Linked DNA regions of Homo sapiens: region 2 is linked to region 1. The links come from fine-mapping of genetic effects on gene expression. A gene starts in region 1. The other region holds a variant in brackets. All regions are shown on one strand. Distances are from middle to middle. Region 1 holds the start of LINC03057 (long intergenic non-protein coding RNA 3057). Region 2 overlaps LINC02086 (long intergenic non-protein coding RNA 2086).

The links. PIP is the estimated chance that this variant, and not a neighbour inherited with it, causes the effect. A credible set is the group of variants that fine-mapping cannot tell apart.
Region 2: its variant is the best candidate, but not a certain one, in a credible set for the expression of LINC03057 in whole blood (INTERVAL, PIP 0.64).

What each region holds. Positions count from the first base shown.
Region 1 is chr17:48,645,107-48,649,434 of GRCh38, reverse strand. LINC03057 (long intergenic non-protein coding RNA 3057) reads left to right here and starts at 2,583. Exons shown (of 2, transcript NR_186590.1): 1 at 2,583-2,830. It overlaps LINC02086 (long intergenic non-protein coding RNA 2086), which reads right to left. Exons shown (of 8, transcript NR_189645.1): 1 at 3,073-4,328. RefSeq lists enhancers at 1,790-1,999, 2,890-2,939, 2,378-3,046 and a silencer at 2,490-2,669.
Region 2 is chr17:48,683,907-48,688,299 of GRCh38, reverse strand. LINC02086 (long intergenic non-protein coding RNA 2086) reads right to left here. Exons shown (of 8, transcript NR_189645.1): 5 at 348-393. Among named protein-coding and RNA genes, the nearest start is that of PRAC1, 36 kb to the left of the region's middle. The variant TG/G (reference allele first, on the strand shown) is at 2,068.

The DNA.
Region 1 (4,328 bases):
ATTGTTAGGGGGTATGGAGGGATTGACCAGAGAGCTATTGATTGGTAGGAGTTACAATGGGGCCTTCTGGTAAGCCGGAAACATCTTGATCTAGGTGGTGGTTACACAGATGGGATCTATGCAAAAATATATTGAGCCAGAGGTTTAATATTAGGTTCTATAATACTATATATCAACAAAAAGTGAAGAAAAAGTAGAAAAATAGACCCAAATAGAAAAAATTCTGGGGCCGGGCATGGTGGCTCACGCCTGTAATCCCAGCACTTTGGGAGGCTGAGGCGGGCGGATGACCTGAGGTAGGGAGTTCGAGACCAGCCTGACGAACTGGAGAAACCCCATCTCTACTAAAAATACAAAATTAGCTGGGCGTTGGCCGGGTGCAGTGGCTCATGCCTGTAATCTCAGCACTTTGGGAGGCTGAGGCGGGCGGATCACCTGAGGTCGGGAGTTCGAGACCAGCCTGACCAACATGGAGAAACCCCGTCTCTATTAAAAATACAAAAAATTAGCTGCGCATGGTGGCACATGCCTGTAATCCCAGCTACTAGGGAGGCTGAGGCAGGAGAACCCGGGAGGCAGAGGTTGCGGTGAGCTGGGATTGTGCCATTGCACTCCAGCCTGGGCAACAAGAGCGAAACTCTGTCTCAGAAAAAACAAACAAACAAAAAAACAAAAACAAAACAAAACAAAAACATTTTGGAAGCAAAATTTAGTTTTGTCATATTTCTATATTCATGTTTACGTGGATATAGAATAAAATTCCCATTTGGATGCATTTTTCTCTCAGCGGTTCAAGCTCAACAGAACCTGCAAATGAGAGGAGGCTGCAGAAGCAAAGCATAAGAAGACATATCATGGCTAGGAGCCGTGGCTCACACCTCTAATCCCAGCACTTTGGGAGGCTGAGGCAAGCGGATCACCTGACGTCAGGAGCCGAGACCAGCCTGGCCAACATGGTGAAAACCCGTCTCTACTAAAACTACACAAATTAGCTGGGCGTGGTGGCACACACCTGTGGTCCCAGCTACTCGGGAGGCTGAAGTGGGAGAATCGCTTGAACTCAAGAGGCGGAGGTTGCAGTGAGCCGAGATTGCACCATTGCACTCCAGCCTGGGTGACAGATCAAGACTTCATCTCAAAAAAGAAGACACATCAATCCTAAATCTAAATGTGGTACACACCTAGGAAGACACATCAACCTTAAATGTACACACCTAATAACAGAGCTTCAAAAATATATGAAGCACCGAAAATGATAGAATTGAAAGGAGAAATGGACAAATCCACAATTATAGTAAGATATTTCAACAGTTCTCACTTGGTAAAATCACTTGTAAAATCACTCTGCCCATTTTACAGAGGAAAAACTGAGGCCTAAAAGGAGAAGGGGTGGGGGCTGAAGTCAGTGGCAGAGCCAGGCTTAGGACACAGAGCTCAGGCACACCTCTACATGCCCCCTGGACAACCACCTGCAGGAAGGGACTGGATTGTGAGGGGGTGTCCCCAGTCCCATGCAGGTTGAGGAGGAAGCAGGGTCTCAGGGCTGAGGTCAGGGAGGGGGGGCACTCCTTAGAGACCAGACAGCCAGGAATGCCACTGTTTGTCGTAGTTTCACTGATTTTAAGGAGGTTAAACCTCTATTTGGGTCTCAGAAATAAAGAGAAGAGCCTGCAATTCCAGGATAGCACGCTAACGAAGGGCCAAAACGCAAAGGCGTCCTGAGGGCTAAGATGGAAAGTGAAACTTTCAAGCTCCTTCTCTAACCTTGGCCAAGGTCGTTCCCTCTGGGTTCATAGAATAGGGAGGAACCCATGTAAGGCACAGGGAACAGAAGAAAGGAGGCAGGTAGAGGGACAACCTTCAGCCTGGTGCAGCCATCCCGGTCGAACAACCCCAGGCAGGAGCCGCTCGGTGGCCGAGGATGGCGGGAAGTCGCTGGGCTGCGGCTGGGGCGGGAGGTGGGCGGAGGAGGGTCCGGCGCTCTCTTTCTCCGGATTCGGAGCCCTAAGTGTGGATCAGTCGCCTCCCGCCCAGGGTGTGAGCGCCCCCTCCCCTTCTCAGCCTCCTTCGGCCTCGCCCCTCCCTCTCACATTTCCAACTCCCAAGGATAACTTGTCGCTCGCTTCAGACGCCCATGGCTTCTTTCAGCCCCTGGGACTCAGCTTTCTCCTCTACCTCTTTTGTCTATTTGTGCATTTGATGTTTCTCTGGGCGCGCCCTTGGATCTGCTTCTCTCTTGCCTTTTATATTCTCATATTCTCATATTCTCTCTCTCTCTCTCTCTCTCTCTCTCTCTCTCCCTCCCTCCCTCCCTCCCTCTCTCCCTCCCTCTCTCCCTCTCTGCCTCTCTCCCTCTCTCTCTCTTCTCTCTCTCTCTCTCTTCTCTCTCTCTTCTCTCTCTCTCTGCTCTCTCCGGCCATCTGGGCGCTGCTCCTCCGCGCCTCTGGCCTCCCCGCGGCGCGCCAGGCCCATCTCCTCACCAGCCGCTCTGGGATCCGACGGCGCCGTGGGTGGGGGCAGGTGAGACGGCCGAGCCCCGCCCGGGCGGAGGCAGGAAGCGCTCTCGCCTATCCCCCTCCCGGACCCTGTCCTCGCCCGCCACTCACCGGCGCCAGGGGAACGCAGGAGCGTGAGCCCCTTCGCGCCCCCAGCGCCGTCGGCGTCGCTGCCCCAGACACAGACACTGCCTCGAGAGGCCTCACAGAGGCGGGGGCAGAAGGCGGCGACCCAGAGCCGCCACATCCCCCGCCTTGGGCGCCGTCACAGTCCCCAGACGCCCTGGACTCCTGCAGTCTACGAAGACGCGCGGGGGACGGCGTGGTTCCGAGAGGTAGGTGAGGAGGCGGGCGCAGCCCTTCCTCTCGCAGCTGGGGACTGCGGCGTGAAAGGCCCCTCTCCAAGCTGGGCAGCCCCGTGGCCCGAGCTTTCAGGACCAACCGCCCGTGGCAGGCGTGGGCTTCCCGGGGCCACCGGCTTAACCTTGATCTCCAGACCGAGGCAGCTTCCCGGGTAGGGCCTCGGGGCGCACCCGAAAACGCCTTGGCCTCCCTGTCCGCTGGCACCCGACCCTACCTCTCCAACAGGTGTGTGTGTGGGGAAAGGGGGTCGCCTCCCCTCGTTCTACCGGAAACCCTGGCTCCCCAGAGCCGAGTGCTCAGTGCCCCGCCCAGCCTGAGGCCCTGCGTCCTGGGCCTCCTGCTCACAACCCCGGATTCCAGGCGGATGCCGTGAGAGAGGCAAGGGCCAGACGCCCTGAGCAGCCTTGGGGGTGAGGAATCGCTTGGGATGGAAGAAGGGCCACTTTTCCTAACGGAAATTAGGAATTGGCCTGGAACTCTTGGTCTAGACAGAAGCCCCCAGCTCCCCAAGGTGCAGAATCAGCTCTCCCGCGCGCTGTCTCTCTAGCTGCCTCCTGGCGTGGAGGGGGCAGAATACTTGGGGGAGTCTCTTGCTTTGGCTTTTGGGGGCCTCATAGGTTTTCTTCCCCTCTGGACTGTGAGCAGCCTCCTGCCTGAGAGAGCGTGTATCTGAATCTAAGGAATGCCAGGAGACGCCATCTTATTTGAAACCCACACTCACAAAAACGGGGCATGTGCATTTTTGTGGAGGGACCTGTTGTTTATGGGAGTGGGCAGAGGGCATCCAAAGGATTTCAAACTGTATGGACTGACTCATGGGTCAATACAAAAATTATTCGCCTTTGAAAAGGCATGTAAAGAAAAGCAAGCATAAAGGGGTGTGCATCGTGCATCGTGGGTATTGTGGAGTCTGAGAGGAATTAGTAACTCGCCGGAGTCGGCTAGGAATCTTATATGACAGCAACTGTGCCTCTCGGAGTAGTCAAGCACCGTTTAAAGATTGAGGATTTATACAGACATGCGAAAGAGATGTGAAATTATGTGCTCCCAACTGTGCTCAATAATAAAGGCAGTAGAAGGGAAATTCATATTTTCATCTATATGCCTCCCCCCTCGCAAAGTAGAACATTGCATGGTATATTTCACATAGTCCACATACCAGAGGCGGAATGTGCAACTGACTGCCCAGGACTGTGCTTTCCAGTACAAATGGAAGCACAAAGATGCCTAATGGAGAAGAGTTAAGTGAAAGTTCTCTTTTCTCAGTGCACTTCCCTAACCCTTTGAGGAAGCAAGTCTGGGGGGCCTTTCCTGATAGGATCTTCCCTCCAAATCCCTTTTGGAGCTGGAGCTCCTCTCTTTCCCTAAAGTCTGGCGCACTTGGCTCCAAGTCCCCATTTCTCCAGTCCAGAAGGGATGAAGCCTCCTCCACCCCAAACATATAGCCTTTGGCTCGCTGGGAGGAGAATT
Region 2 (4,393 bases), 39 kb before region 1:
AAAGAAATAACCTTAAGAATCTGTTATATGGGCCAGGTACAGTGGCTTATGCCTGTAATCCCAACACTTTGGGAGGCCAAGGCAGGAGGATTGCTTGAGTCCAGGAGTTCAAAACCAGCCTAGTCAACATCGAGAGACTTTGTCTCTCCCAAAAAAAAAAATCAGCTGGGCGTGGTGGCAAGCACCTGTAGTCCTAGCTACTGGGGAGGCTGAACTCAGGAATTTGAGGCTGCAGTGAGTCATGATCGCGCCACTGCACTCTAGGTTGGGTGACAAAGCGAGACCCTCCCTCAAAACAAACAAACAAACAAAAAACTGTTACATGACATTTGAACCTCCTCCCTTACCTCAAGAATATAAGTGGTCCTGAGTGGAGCTTTGTGAGGAGATTATCTATGGGAAGAGATAGTCCTGTGTTGTAAGCTCCCCTCCCAATGTTGGGGGGTACCAAACTCCCTGCCAGGAAGACTCAGGCAGAGGCACATTTTGTATGTCTGGGAGGATGTATGTTGCAGGCTAGGAAGCCACAAGGCAGATTGGAGTGGGACTGCCACCCCAGTCACAATGACTCTCTGACTGCTCCCCTTACCCACGGGTGACAGCCATTTTGAGCAGCGGGACCCTGTTCCTCTGGTCCCAGTTTGAATTAACTGGGACAGAATTCCTTCCTATAAAATGTATAATAGAGACAAAGAGGGGGAAAAAACCCCTCTTTGGGTAGCTGAATCCAGAATGTCGCATTCTTCCATTGAGATTTGGAGGGGGGAGGAGCTGGTCTGCAGAGACAGAAAAATGCATCAGACCTGAAGAAAAAAGAAGCAGAGATGAGAAGTCGATGACAACTTGTTCCATGAGAGGAGATCTGGATTGAATGCGTTCTATTTTCTTTTCATCAATTCCCCTTTTTTGTTCTAGCTATATATATGTATGTATATATGTGTGTGTGTGTATATATACATATGTGTATATATGTATGTGTGAGACCCTGTCTCAAAAATATATATATATACAGTCCCAGCCTGTAGTCCCAGCTCCTGGGGGAGGCTGAGCCCAGGAGTTCAAGGCTGCAGTGAGCTGTGTGTGTGTGTGTGTGTGTGTGTGTGTGTGTGTGTGTGTGTGTGTATATATATATATATATATAAATATGTATATATATAAATGTGTATATATAATATATAAATGTGCATATGTATAAATGCGTATATATATAAATTCATATATATATGAATTTCAAGGCTGCAGTGAGCCATGTGAGTGTATATATATATAAATGTGTATATATATAAAAATGTGTATTTATATATAACATATAATATATAAATGTGTATATATAAATGTGTATATATATATAAATTCATATAGATATGAATTTCAAGGCTACAGTGAGCCGTGTGTGTATATATATCTATAATATTTATATAATATATCTAAATATAAATGTATATATATAAATGTGTATATGTACATATGTATGTGTGAATACACACACATATATGTATTATTACGTACACACACACACACACACACACACACACACACACACACATATGGCTCACTGCAGCCTTGAACTCCTGGGCTCAGCCTCCGCCAGGAGGTGGGACTACAGGTTGGGACTGTATATATATATATTTTTGAGACAGGGTCTCACTCTGTCACCCAGGCTGGAGTGCAGTGGTGCAATCATAGCTCACTGCAGTCTCGACTTCCTGTGCTCAAGTGATCCTCCCACCTCAGCCTACCAAGCTGAAACTACATGTGCACGCTGTCAGGCCCAGCTAATTTTTTTGTATTTGTAGAGACGGGGCTTCTCCATGTTGCCCAGGCTGTTCTTGAACTCCTGGGTTCAAGCCATCTGCCCGCCTCAGCCTCCCACAGTGCTGGGATTACAGGCGTGAGCCACGACGCCTGGCTAAGCTATCTTGTTTTTCATACGATCCATGGGGTACATGTGAAATTTTATTACATGTATATAATACATAACAAAGAAGTCAGGGTTTTTAGGGTGTCCATCCTCCCAATACAATACATTTTTATTAACGGTAGTCACCTTACTCTGCTATCAAACAT[TG/G]AATTTATGCCTTCTATCTAACTGTATGTTTGTACCCTTTAACCCACCTCTCTTCATCCTCCCCTCTGCCCCCAACTTGTTTAAGCTATCTTGAGTTGGTTTCTGGTGTTTCAACAAGATTCATAACTAATGCAACTGCTAACATTCCTCAATCATTTGTCAAATACCATTTGGCATATTCTGTTGTTCAATCATCTACTCTGCATCTACTCTCGGGTCTCCCTGAACTTCTCCACTCCGTCCATCCTCTTCCTCCTCCTCCACATTCGGGGACCCCTTCATAATTCAAGTCAGGCTTTCACATATGCTATCTGTGATCGTCCCAGGAATCCTGTGAGCTAGTTGTTGTTCCTATTTCAGTTCAACAGTCCTTTATCAAGTACCTACTAAGTGCCAGGAACCAAGCTGTAGAGTCCATTCTCCTGTTCTCCCATAGCACGAGTACACAATCCCTCTCTAAAATCTCTGGGGCTCAGCCAGGTGCGGTGGCTCATGCCTATAATCCCAGCACTTTGGGAGGCCAAGGCAGGTGGATCACCTGAGGTCAGGAGTTCGAGACCAGCCTGACCAACATGGTGAAACCCCATCTCTACTAAAAATACAAAAATTAGCCGGGCGTGTTGACGAGCACCTGTAATTCCAGCTACCCAGGAGGCTGAGGCAGGAGAATTGCTTGAACCCAGGAGGCAGAGGTTGCAGTGAGCCGAGATCGCGCCATTGCACTCCTGCCTGGGCGACAGAGAGAGACTCCATCTCAAAAATAAAATAAAATAAAATAAAATAAAATATCTGGGGCTGACGTACAGACTCACTCGAACATGCAGGCCTGGAGGCCCACATATCCATGCCTAATATATTTACGATATGTAAATCAAGTTAACAAGCTACTAAATAAGAACTGTCTTCTGAGTTGCGCATGGTGGCTCATGCCTATAATCTGAGCACTTTGAGGGGCTGAGACGGGATGATCACTTGAGCCCAGGAGTTCAAGAACAGCCTGGGCACCATAGTGAGACCCCCATCTCTTTGAAACTAAACAAACAAACAAATAAATAAATAAGAGCTGTGTTCTGTCCTATGTTGATAGATATAGCCAGGGTCAAATTTACAATTTTGGATAACTATATCTATCCCCTTTCTCTTTGCACACTCAATTCTATCCTTACCTTGAGTGGTCTCACGGGCACATGTGTGGACATTTTAGTTTGCACAACCAGCCTCTATCCATACCTGCTGCAAACAGCTGCTCTTTGGTTATGTCTTGGCCTTAAGAGTGCATATGACAGCGGTAACCCCCACCCCCCACCCATCCAGAGGGTAGACCAATTAAAGAGATCTGCACAGACTTTGGACCACTTGGGCAGCAAACTCCAGTGGCCCAGGTACCTGGGACATGATCTAGAGTTGGGGGGGCGGTGCTCAGGTGGTGAGAGGCCCTTCATTTTGCCTCACAGGCCTACCTAATCAGCAAGGGCTATCTAGAAGAAGGGCAAAGTAAGGCCCTCCAAAATGTGGGGTCCTCTTGCGTGGGTCTAAGATGAGCCCTGAAATTTAGAAGTGTTCAGTTTTCAGAGAGATATGCTGCACACACTGCATATTATTCATTCCCCCAGTGGGGTCTGGGGAGAGCTTGAGCAAATATGTTGGCACTTTTGCAACAAAATACATTAATATTCATTCTAAGTGAATGAAATAAAGACTATAAATAGTCTATAGATGTCTCTATAAATTCCTCATGTCATTTCAAGTCAGATTTTGCCACCACTTGAGTCTGTGCCAAACTTAAGAAAAAACTTTTGGCCGGCCTCATGCCTGTAATTCTAACATTTTGGGAGGCCAAAGCAGGACAATCGCTTGAGCCTGGGAGTTCAAGTCCAGCCTGGACCATATAGCAAGACCCCAGTCTCTATAAAAGTAAGAAAATTAGCTGGGCACAATGGCACACACCTGTAGCCCTAGCTGCTTGGGAGTCCGAGGTGGGAGAATCCCTTGAGCTTGGGAGGTTGAGGCTGCAGTGAGCCGTGATCATGCCACTGCACTCCAGCCTGGGTGACAGAGAAAGACCCTGTCTCAACAACAACAACAACAACAACAACACACACACACACACACACACACACACACACACACACACCTTTCCAATTTTCACAGCTTTTGAGATTTCAGAACTTGGAGATAAGGAGTTATGGAACTATAATAGAGTTGTAATATAGTCATTGCTGTTCAATTGATGACACATTTCTAGCCTTTCTTTCAACTAAGTGTAGCCATGTGGCTAAGCTCTCAGCAAGAGAATATGAGCAGAAGTCATGAGGGCTGCTTTGG